Regions from separate parts of the Homo sapiens genome. Here region 2 is linked to region 1. The links come from fine-mapping of genetic effects on gene expression. A gene starts in region 1. The other region holds a variant in brackets. All regions are shown on one strand. Distances are between the middles of the regions.

Evidence for each region. PIP is the estimated chance that this variant, and not a neighbour inherited with it, causes the effect.
Region 2: its variant is fine-mapped to the expression of KDM2A in whole blood (TOPMed, PIP above 0.99).

The regions. Positions count from the first base shown.
Region 1 is chr11:67,116,375-67,121,738 of GRCh38, forward strand. It overlaps KDM2A (lysine demethylase 2A), which reads left to right and starts at 2,889. Exons shown (of 21, transcript NM_012308.3): 1 at 2,889-3,675; 2 at 4,860-4,984. The coding sequence starts at 4,943. LOC107984341 (a long non-coding RNA gene) reads right to left here and starts at 1,974. Exons shown (of 2, transcript NR_160735.1): 1 at 860-1,974. RefSeq lists silencers at 1,416-1,465, 1,796-1,845, 1,986-2,265, 2,446-2,885, 3,026-3,095 and 2 more and an enhancer at 2,326-2,375.
Region 2 is chr11:67,068,877-67,074,240 of GRCh38, forward strand. It overlaps RHOD (ras homolog family member D), which reads left to right. Exons shown (of 5, transcript NM_014578.4): 4 at 1,549-1,683; 5 at 2,559-3,141. The coding sequence ends at 2,726. Among named protein-coding and RNA genes, the nearest start is that of RHOD, 15 kb to the left of the region's middle. RefSeq lists an enhancer at 5,045-5,364. The variant C/T (reference allele first, on the strand shown) is at 2,862.

The sequences.
Region 1 (5,364 bases):
ATGGAGTCTCACTCTGTAGCCCAAGCTGGAGTGCAATGGCGCCATCTCGGCTCACTGCAACCTCCACCTCTTGCATTCAAGTGATTCTCCTGCCTCAGCCTCCCATGTAACTGGGATTATAGGCATGCACCACCACGCCCGGCTAATTTTGTATTTTTTTTTTAGTAGAGACAGGGTTTTGCCATGTTGGCCAGGCTGGTCTTGAACGCCTGACCTCAGGTGATCCACCTGCCTTGGCCTCCCAAAGTGCTGGGATTACAGGCGTGAGCCACCGCGCCCGGCCTGTTCTAAAGCCTTTCTAGGGTTCTCCCAGCATGCCCATCTGAATTAAACTTGGAGGTATCTGATTGCCAAGGGTGTGCAACTCACCTCCTTGAGGGTTAATTACTTAAGGGGGTCTGAATGTTAAGAAAAAGGGCAAGACCAAGTTGAGCTACTCCTAGAGACTTTCTCTTTGCCGCCAAGTATTCCCTGGGTTATAAGGGTGAGTGGGAAGGAAATAAAGCTGTTTATTTTGCAAATAGCAACAAGGCCCAACACTTAATCTGACAATGGCAAAAGCTTTCTCTCCTGCTTAAAAAACAAACAAAACGAGCTGCTGACTTTTTCTATAACTACAGAGAGCCAGATGCTTATGGGGCCATATCTGGTAGCACCAGTGTGAGAGACTGCTGCTTTTAAAATATACTTTACCATAGTCGGAAAGATTTAAAGAGGCTTTAGATCTGATACAGTTTCTGTGATTATCTTCTTCGTATCAGTGCTCTGAAAATCTAAGAAGTCTGAACAAAACTGGTATCAAAATAAAGAATATTTCCCAGTGACTAGAACGCAAGAAGATGATATCTTATTAACAAACCTTTTTTGCTGTTTGTGAGATGTTTCAGTCGGCTGTTGGAGTAATTATGCAAGCTCTTTAACCTTTCTATACTTCAGTTGTCTATCTTTAAAATGAATATAGCGCTAACAGGCACTTTAGCTTGTCTCCTAAGGATGTTGTGAAACAAAGCAGAGAATGTCTGTACAAACTCCCCAAGTTGTGCATGCAGAAAAACCTTCTGTGGTAATAAATAATAATACCTTGCATTTACGTAGCGCTTTTACCTTGGAGTTCAAGCCTTGATAGAATTAGAAGGTATCATTATTTTAATTGTCTCGCTAACGTCCTCCTGAAAGAGTTGATGGCTGTTTATGCAGGTTATATGATTCACTCCATGCCCTACCTCTCTGCTCCATTCCCTGCTTCCAGGAGTCAGAGCTTAAAGAGTGGGAAACCAAGGCAGGGAGAAAAAGATTTGTGTGACACCGCTCAGCAAGGGCGTAGTGGAGCCAATAGTGCCAACCCCGATGTGTAACGCCCCAGCCACCGTCCTTTGTGGGATTTAGAATTTAAACGGGCCCCAGAGCAAGAGATTGGCTGGGGAAATGCCCGGATCGCGGCTGGGCTGCTCGCATGGCACTGCTCGGGTACCTCCGGCCGGGCTCCGTCGACGTTCGGAGCCTGCTGGCCCGTCGGGCAGCTGTCGGGCCGCGGGAGTCGGTCCGTGGGCAGGGCCGGCGCAGCTCGGGCGGCTGCTGCCCCGTCGCTGACCCCCGCGCGAAGCTGCGCGCACCAACAGGAGACATCTTCCCGGCCGGGCCTCCCGCGCCCGCCACGGCCCAGGGCGGCAGGGTCGGGCCGGGGGCCGGGGGCGGCCCGCGCACCCCTCCGTGGGGGGCGCCCCGACTCGCCGGGGGCGGGGTCACGTCCCACCCGGGCCGCCGGGGGCACCGGCGCGGCGGAAAGCTGAGCGTGGCCGAGGAGCGGGGGCTTCCTGGGCCACCTCGCCGGGCGCCTCCGGCCGGCGGTGGGCGCGCCGGCCGCCACCGCCCCCGGGCCGTCGCGGAGACCGCTTCTGCGCCTGGTACCTGTGGACGCCCTTGTTAAGCGCCTGCAGCACCCCCGGGGAGCCGAGCCCAGGACAGACATGCTACTCCTGTTTCCTGCCCCTTCGGAGCGACGAGCAGTGGGTGAGGCGGGGCCAGGCCGCTGCACCGAGGAGCCCCCGGGCCCAGGGCAGACGGGCCCCGTGGCGGCGGCGCCGGGGCCTGCCCGGGAATGGCGGGCAAGCCGGCCTCGGCCCACCGGCCGGCACGCGAAGGGAGGGCAGCCGGCGGCCATGCGCCCCTTCCCTGCGCCCTCTCGCCCTGGGCAGGCCTGAGCCGGGAGCCCAGGTCCCGCGGGCCCAGCCCGGCGGCTTGACCCCGGGAGACCCTGCTTTGAGGCGGGTATCGGTTGCCCTGGCCCAGGCCTCCCGGCCCTCAGGTTGTGTGACTGTGACGGGCAGCCTGGGGCCAAAGGCGGTTGAAGGGGAAGGGGACGCAGATCTCCCACTGCTTGGGGGGGGTGATGTGCTTTGTGGGGGGTCGGGGGTCACCACCCTCCCAGGGGGGTGGGGGAGGGCGGCCAGCACAGCTGGCCGCGAGGGGCGGGGTCGCAGAGGCGAAGTGTGTGTGAGGGTGTGTGGGGGGAGGGCGCGCGGAGGAGGATCGGTGCCCTGCGCGCAGGCGCGAGCAGCCAGCCAGGCCCGAGCCCTGGAAGAACGCCGACGGGGAGCGGGGGCGGCGGGCTGGCGGGAGGGAGGGAGGGCGGGCGGCCTGACGCGAGGGGGCGCAGGGAGCCGCGTCGGCGTCGCGGGGCGCGGGCGATTCGAGGCCGACGCATCCGCGCGTGCGCGCGCCGGCGGTGTGTCCGCGTTAGAGGGGAGTGACGCGTGCGCGTTCACGCGCGCCCGGGAGAGCGGTAAGAAGCGCAGGGAGGCCTGAAGGGGGTGGGGGGGTGGAGAGGCGAGCTGGAGGAGGGGTGGGGAGGTGGCGCCTGCGCAGTGCGCCTCGGAGGAGCTGTGTGTATGTGAGAGTCTGACGGGTTCAAAATGGCGGCGGCTGCTTCAGCGGCTCCTCCTGTGTGAGGGAAACAACACCCCTCCCCGGCAGCGGCGGCGGCGGCGGCGGCTCTCGGAGCACCTTCCCAGCGGCTGGGCCCGTGGCCGCTCTGTCTTTCCTGGGCAGGGGACGCTCCGGGAGGAGGGGCAACGCCAGGGGGCCCATCCCCCGGAATCCCTCTTCTGCGACTGGGGAGTAGCCGGGGGGCTCGTCCCGCAGCGCGGAGCCAGACCTGAGGGGGAGACGCGAGGGGAGCCAGGGCCCCCATCCCGGCGCGCCGCGCCGCTCCCGCCCTGTCCGCCCCCCGGGGCCGGGGCCCGCGTTCCGGGGGGCCGGGGCGGCGCGGGGAGCCTCGGGCCGGCCGGTCTCAGCTGATCGGCCGCTGCTCCCGCAGGCGACCAGCCCCTGCTGGCCGAGGGCACGGCGAGGAGGGCGCTCCCTGCGGCCGGGGCCGGCCCGGGGCTCGGGCCCGGGCTGCTGACCGCTGGCCTGGGGGAGGCGGGGGCGCCCCGGGCTCGGCGCCGAGGGGTCGCGCTCCTCTCTCCTGACGCCTCCGACTCCCGGTCTCCAAAGCCAGAAGAGAAGGTTTGATTCAGCAACTGTTTGCTCCCTTTTCCTGGTCGCTCTGACCCTCTCTGGATACTGGGTTGATCCACGGAAAAACCGAAGACGACGTTTGGGATTTAATTATTCCTCTCAGCTTTGGAATCTTTTACTTCTCACTTGGACAAGAACTCAAGAGCAGAATCTCCGGTGAGTTTCCCCCTCCCCCCCCTCATTTGGAAGTTTGGTTGACTGTGTTATCCAAAGACTGAATGCAAAGTTTCTATCTCTTTTTCCGATGGGTGAACCATTGAAACGCCTTTTCCTGGGGGAGCCCAGCGAGATTCGCCCTTTTTCCTCTCCGGCCCTGGCTGCTCCATGCCCAGGCGGTCGTCGCCCAGGGGGTGCAAGCACGGTTTCCCTCCCGACTTCGGGCCAGGGCTTCCTCCGGGAGGGCTCTGCCTCTAACTGCTCTGCAAACTGTGTCATCGGGTCCTCTGGTCTCGTAGCAGTTTTGAAAGGATGCTGTTAACGTGGCTGTAATGTAGTGACAAAAACGGGGGGAACCTGTGTTCTCAATGGAAGCCATTATCCACGAGAATATTTAGAAAAAAGAAAACCCTTTCTTGGTATTACGGATTGACCGTCGCGCCGGCCGGTCTTTTATTTAATTTTTGGACAAGATGTATTTTCCTTGTATCCTTAGATGCAATCGTTTATTTTATTACTTTATCCAAAAAGATCAGATGGAATTTTGGTCCTTGATTTGCACCTCTGAAATTTGTTTCAGAGTTGTGCACATCTTGTGTTGGGGTGGAGGGTAGATTTGGGAATGATAAGATCCGGGGAGTCTAGAAAGGAAGGCGACGATTGTGCACGGCCTTACAGGAGGGGTATGGGAAATTGTTTTGGGGTCATTTAAATCCTAATTTTTTGTCCTCTTTTTACATAGTCAGTTTGCCCTTCTTTCCTTTAGTTTCTGATTACCGGTGAGAGAGAACTAATTTGGTTAGGATCTGGATTAGTTCAGTGGTGCTTCACCTGGTCAGCTCTCTGGAGATAAAAGTCCTGGGCTTTTTTTTTTTCTTGCTGATGCTGCCATGAAGGAGATCCTTGCTAGTTGTAATCCTGTGGGGAGAAACTGGTGGTGTGGCCCTTCCACAAGGAACTGAAACCAACATCTCGTTTCGTCTAGGCCTCCGACAGTTGTAATGTGATTAATGTTGAACATGACATGGAACCACTTGCCCAAGAGCAGAAAGGTCCCAAACTCATGAAGAGGAACCTGATTTTTCAGAGAGCCTTTAACACTTACCTTAAATACTCCTTTCCGTGAACAGAAAGCACAAGTTTGAGAATGAGTTCTCATTTCTGCTTATATCATTATTCTTTAGTGTTGCAATCTGGTTCCTAAGGAGGAAGAGGAAGGCAGCCCTGGAGTGGTTTCTTTACAGTAATTTCAACAGAAGAGTGAGAGATGGAACCCGAAGAAGAAAGGATTCGTTACAGCCAGAGATTGGTTAGTATTTTCTCCCCCCACCACACCCTCCAGTTTTAAAGTAGGATAACTATTTTGTTTCCAGTTGTGAATATACTGTGAATCTGTGATTAAAACTTTTCGGGTGACTTTTCTGTGCACCAGAGGAGGGGGAAAGGTGTATTAATATCGAATTTGGCTTTTGGCCAAACATGTTTTATATTTTATATATTTATCTTGTTTGGAAATGGAGTTATATGTAGCCTTTAGCTTTTATAGAAACCATTGTATACCAAAGGATTTTGTGGATTACAATGTGACAAAGATTCCTGATTTTACAGTACTGACATTGTAATACATCTGATTACGTTAGATTAGAATATAAATTTTGGGGGCAAAGCTGTTTGAGGAAGGATAGTTCA
Region 2 (5,364 bases), 47 kb before region 1:
GATGCGGGGGTGTGGGGAATCTGCCAGGGACCCCACAAAGGCCCCATTTGCTTCCAGGAATGAGGTAGTTTGATGCCAATTTTTGTTTGTTTGTTTGTTTGTTTGTTTTGAGACAGAGTCTCACTCTGTCTCCCAGGCTGGAGTGCAGTGGTACAATCTGGGCTCACTGCAACCTCCACCTCCTGGGTTCAAGCGATTCTCCTGCCTCAGCCTCCCGAGTAGCTAGGATTGCAGGCTTGAGCCACCAAGCCCGGCTGATGCCAATTTTTATCAGGCAAGTTTCATGCCCAAACCAGCCGACTTCAGCCGACTTAGTGCTCCTGGAGATAGGAAGCCCCCTCCCGGGATCCCCGGCTCCCCAGCTGTAGTCCAGGCTGAAAGAACTCGGCCCTGGTGGCCTCACATTCTGCAGAGCAGCCCTCCCTCCACCAGGCAAGCAGTTGAGGCAGACAGCTGCTGCAACCATTTTGTGAGCAGATTTATTTATTTATTATTTTTTTGAGACGGAGTCTCACTCTGTAGCCCAGGCTGGAGTGCAGTGGCTCCATCTCAGCTCACTGCAACCTCCGCCTCCCAGGTTCAAGCGATTCTCCTGCCTCAGCCTCCAGAGTAGCTGGGACTACAGGTGCACGCCACCACGCCCAGCTAATTTTTGTATTTTTAGTAGAGACGGGGTTTCCCCTTGTTGGCCAGGCTGGTCTCGAACTCCTGACCTCAGGTGATCTGCCTGCCCTCAGCCTCCCAAAGTGCTGGGATTACAGGCGTGAGCCACCGAGCCCGGCCTGGATTGATTGATTTATTTTTATCTTTTTAATTGATTTATTTATTTATTTTGAGATGGAGTTTCACTCTGTCGCCCAGGCTGGAATGCAGTGGCGCGATCTCAGCTCCCTGCAACCTCCGCCTCCCAGGTTCATGCCATTCTCCTGCCTCAGCCTCCCGAGCAGCTGGGATTACAGGCACCCGCCATCATGCCCACCTAAATTTTGTATTTTTACTAGAGACAGGGTTTCACTGTTGGCCAGGCTGGTCTCAAACTCCTGACCTCAGGTGTTCCACCTGCCTCAGGCTCCCAAAGTGCTGGGATTACAGGCGTGAGCCACCACACCTGGCCCAGATTTGTTTTTAAAGGATCCCTTACTTCCTTATATGTTTTGCTCAGTTTGGTGGGTGTCCATGAGGGCCCTTACCCTGCAGAGAGGAAAGATTCTAGAACGGCAGGAGCAGGGTTCTGAGCCCCACCCCCAGGCTCAAATCCTGCCATTTCCAGCCAAGGCCAAGTTACATCGCCTTTCTGTGCCTCAGTTACCGCACCTGTACAGTGGGATTGGTTGTGAACTTGCTGCCACGGCCTCGGGGAATTAATGGGTCCATACGTGTAAATTCTTAGATGAGGTTCTGGTACCAAATAGTTTCTCCCTAGGTGCTGGCTTTGCTGATTATCCATATCAGAGCTCAGGCTGGGGAGCAAGAGAGTGGTCCACTGAGAGGGCCAGAACTCTCCAGGGCTCACACATGCCCCCCACATGCCCCCTCGCCCCCCTGCAGTGGTACCCAGAAGTGAATCATTTCTGCAAGAAGGTACCCATCATCGTCGTGGGCTGCAAGACTGACCTGCGCAAGGACAAATCACTGGTGAACAAGCTCCGAAGAAACGGATTGGAGCCTGTGACCTACCACAGGGTAGGAAACCCAGCCCGAGGTGGGAGTTGGGGAGGACTGAGTGAGGGGACCTCTGGATGCCTCTCAGTGGCACCAGGTGTCCAGAACGCTCAGGGTGTAGGTCAGAGCTGCGGTCGTCTTAGAGGCTGTCAGAGGTCAGAAACTTCCAGCACTTAGAAATGGTCCCTAGAATATTCTGGGAGCCTCCACAGGCAAAAGGGAGAACAAGGAAGTAGGCATATCAGAGTCAGTTCCACCACCAACCTGAGACCCAGAGAGGGGGCCCAGGCAGGCACCCACATATTCAGACCGTGGGTCCCTCTCTGCTACACGTCTGGGTTCATGGGAAGTTCATTTCTTGGTGCCTTGAGAGGCAAAGAGGCCCAGAACGGAGGTTAAAAACAACGAAGGCTGGCAGGGCGCAGGGGCTCACGCCTGTAATCCCAGCACTTGGGAGGCCGAGGTGGGTGGATCACTTGAAGTCAGGAGTTCGAGACCAGCCAGGGCAAAATAGCGAGACCCTGTCTCTACCAAAAATACAAAAAATTAGCCAAGTGGTGTGGTGGCGGGTGCCTGTAGTCCTAGCTACTCTGGAGGCAGAGGCAGGAGAATCACTTGAACCCGGTTGGAGGAGCTGCAGTGAGCTGAGATCGCACCACTGCACTCCAGCCTGGACGACAGAGCAAGACTCCGTCTCAAAAAAATAATAATAATAAAAATAAAGAAAAGAAAAACAAACATGATGAAGTGCATGAGGGCGCTTGGGCAAGCAGGGATACGGGAGCCATGGGTGCTCCGCAGACCCCACCTTCCACTCTTGTCCGGGAAAAGGAAGCGAGAACGTGAGGCCTGCCCAGTGCCCCCTTCACCGCAGCCCCATCCACCTCTCCCTCTAGGGCCAGGAGATGGCGAGGTCCGTGGGCGCGGTGGCCTACCTCGAGTGCTCGGCTCGGCTCCATGACAACGTCCACGCCGTCTTCCAGGAGGCCGCCGAGGTGGCCCTCAGCAGCCGCGGTCGCAACTTCTGGCGGCGGATTACCCAGGGCTTTTGCGTGGTGACCTGAGCGGCTCGGGGCGTCCCAGCGACGCGGGAAGGGGCAGGGCGCTGACCTGCTGCTGAGCTGGCTGGGCTGGACCCGGTCCCTAGGCTGTGACCGCCGAACTCCACTGCAACAGACGGGCGCCACCAAAGCCAGGCC[C/T]TGAGGCCTGGGAGTCCTGGACTGAGAAAGGGGGTTCCTGGGCCCACCTGCTCTGTGTAGGGCTCGTCCTGCGGTGCCCGAGAATCACTCGCTAACCCCTATGCCCGGTCCCGGACCGACATCCTGGAGCCGCCTGTGCAGCCTGATGCCCCCTCGTGGCTGCTCCCAGGGCTGCACCTGCCAGGACCTAATGTTCTTAGGTCCCTCTGGCCAGAACCCACACCCGGCCCCTTCCCACCTGTCATACTGGTAACTGTAACAAGAAAAACGACATCACTTATCATTGTGTCGTGCCTCTTTTTTCTGTTTTCTTTTTTTTGAGACGGAGTCTCGTTCTATCGCCCAGGCTGGAGTGCAGTGGCGCATTTCAGCTCACTGCAACCTGTGCCTCCTGGGTTCAAGCGATTCTCCTGTCTCAGCCTCCTGAGTAGCTGGGATTACAGGCGCGCGCCACCACACCCGGATAATTTTTGTATTTTCTTTAGCAGAGACGGGGTTTCACCATGTTGGTGAGGCTGGTCTCGAACTCCTGACCTCATGATCCACCCGCCTCGGCCTCCCAAAGTGCTGGGATTACAGCCATGAGCCACCACGCCCTGCCTATGCCTCTTGTTTCAAGGTGTCTTTACACACACGTTCCAAGGTAGGTAAAAGCCCACCCCATCTAGGCACTGGGATGGGACTGCTTGGATCCAAACCAGCTTTATTGCTTCCACGACCTTGGGCAAGTTCTTCTGGGCCTCAGCTTCCTCACCTGTGAAATGGATCACAGACTAAGCCATGGAACTTTCGGATGAGTAAGAGGGTCATGAGGACCAACACACGCAAAGAGCTTAGTAGGTGCCTAGCACGCAGTAAGTGCTCACAAAAGGTTCGGCCAGGGCCGAGCACAGTGACTCATGCCTGTAATCCCAGCACTTTGGGAGGCCGACGTGGGTGGATCACGAGGTCAGGAGTTTGAGACCAGCCTGACCAACATGGTGAAACCCCCATCTCTACTAAAAATACAAAAATTAGCCAGGCGTGGTGGCCCACACCTGTAATCCCAGCTACTCCAGAGGCTGAGGCAGGAGAATAGGTTGCAGTGAGCCGAGATCACACCACTGCACTCCAGCCCAGGCAACACAACGAGACTCCTTCTCAAAAAAAAAAAAGGTGTAGCCAGGTGCTGTGGCACACCTGTCCCAGCCACGATTGTACCAGTGCACTCCAGCTTGGGCTACAAAGCAGAAAAAAAAAAAAAAAAAGAAAAAAAAGTGGCCGGGTGTGTTGGCTTACGCCTGTAATTCCAACACTTTGGGAGGCTGAGGCGGATGGATCACCTGAGGTCAGGAGTTCGAGACCAGCCTAGTGGTCACATGGTGAAACCCGGTCTCTACTAAAAATATAAAAATTAGTTGGATGTGGTGGTACGTCCCTGTAATCCCAGCTACTTGGGAGGCTGAGGCTGGAGAATCACTTGAATCCGGGAAGTGGAAGTTGCAGTGAGCTGAGATCACGCCACTGCACTCCAGCCTGGGTGACAGAGCGAGACTCTGTCAAAAAAAAAAAAAAAAAAAAAAAAAAAAAAGGATCTTGACTTCTGACTTCAGAGCAGTTGAGGCTTGTGCAAGAAGAAAAATCTGCAAGAAGTCTGCATAAAAAGCATAACAGCAAAACCATCAAGGGCTCCAAGAACACAGGGAAGTTACAGAGGAGAGCTGTCTGAGCTAGGTTAAGCTCACTAGGCTTGGGGAGAATAGGGAAGAATATTCTGGGTGCAGGGTATGCTTAGGGGAAGAGCAATCAGGCTGGAAATGGAAGCTGGGAAAAGTTGTTTCCCATCCCTGAGCAGGTGAGATTAAAAGTTCAGTGGGGCCTGGTGTGGTGGCTCGCGCCTGTAATCCCAGCACTTTGGGAGGCTGAGAAGGGTAGATCACCTGAGGTCAGGAGTTCGAGACCAGCCTGGACAACATGTTGAAACCCCATCTCTACTAAAAATACAAAAAAATTAGCTGGGCATGGTGGTGGGCACCTGTAAACCCAGCTACTCAGGAGGCTGAGGAAGGAGAATCACTTGAACCCGGGAGGCGGAGGTTGCAGTAAGCCGAGATCACGCCACTGCACTCCAGACTGGGCAACAAGAGCAAAACTCTGTCTCAAAAAAGAACCATAACAATAAATTAATAAATAATAATAATTTAAAAATAAAATATATAAATAATAAAAATTTTAAAAAAAGAAACCTCACAGTGGGGACTGGAATCTAGGTAGGGTTTTCCACGTTGGCCCCTAACACTATTTCACTTGCGGCAGCTCGGCCCTGTAATCTGAGCTGTGAGGCCCCACGTTGCTGAAGCAGTCCCCCACCTGGAGCTGTTTCTGATGAAACTTCCGGGACAGGTGTCAGCAGCTGGTTCTCATTAAGGATCATGTGTATCAGCGCAAAAGAAATGGTCCAGTTCGGCTGGGCGCGGTGGCTCACACCTGTAATCCCAACACTTTGGGAGGCCAAGGCAGGTGG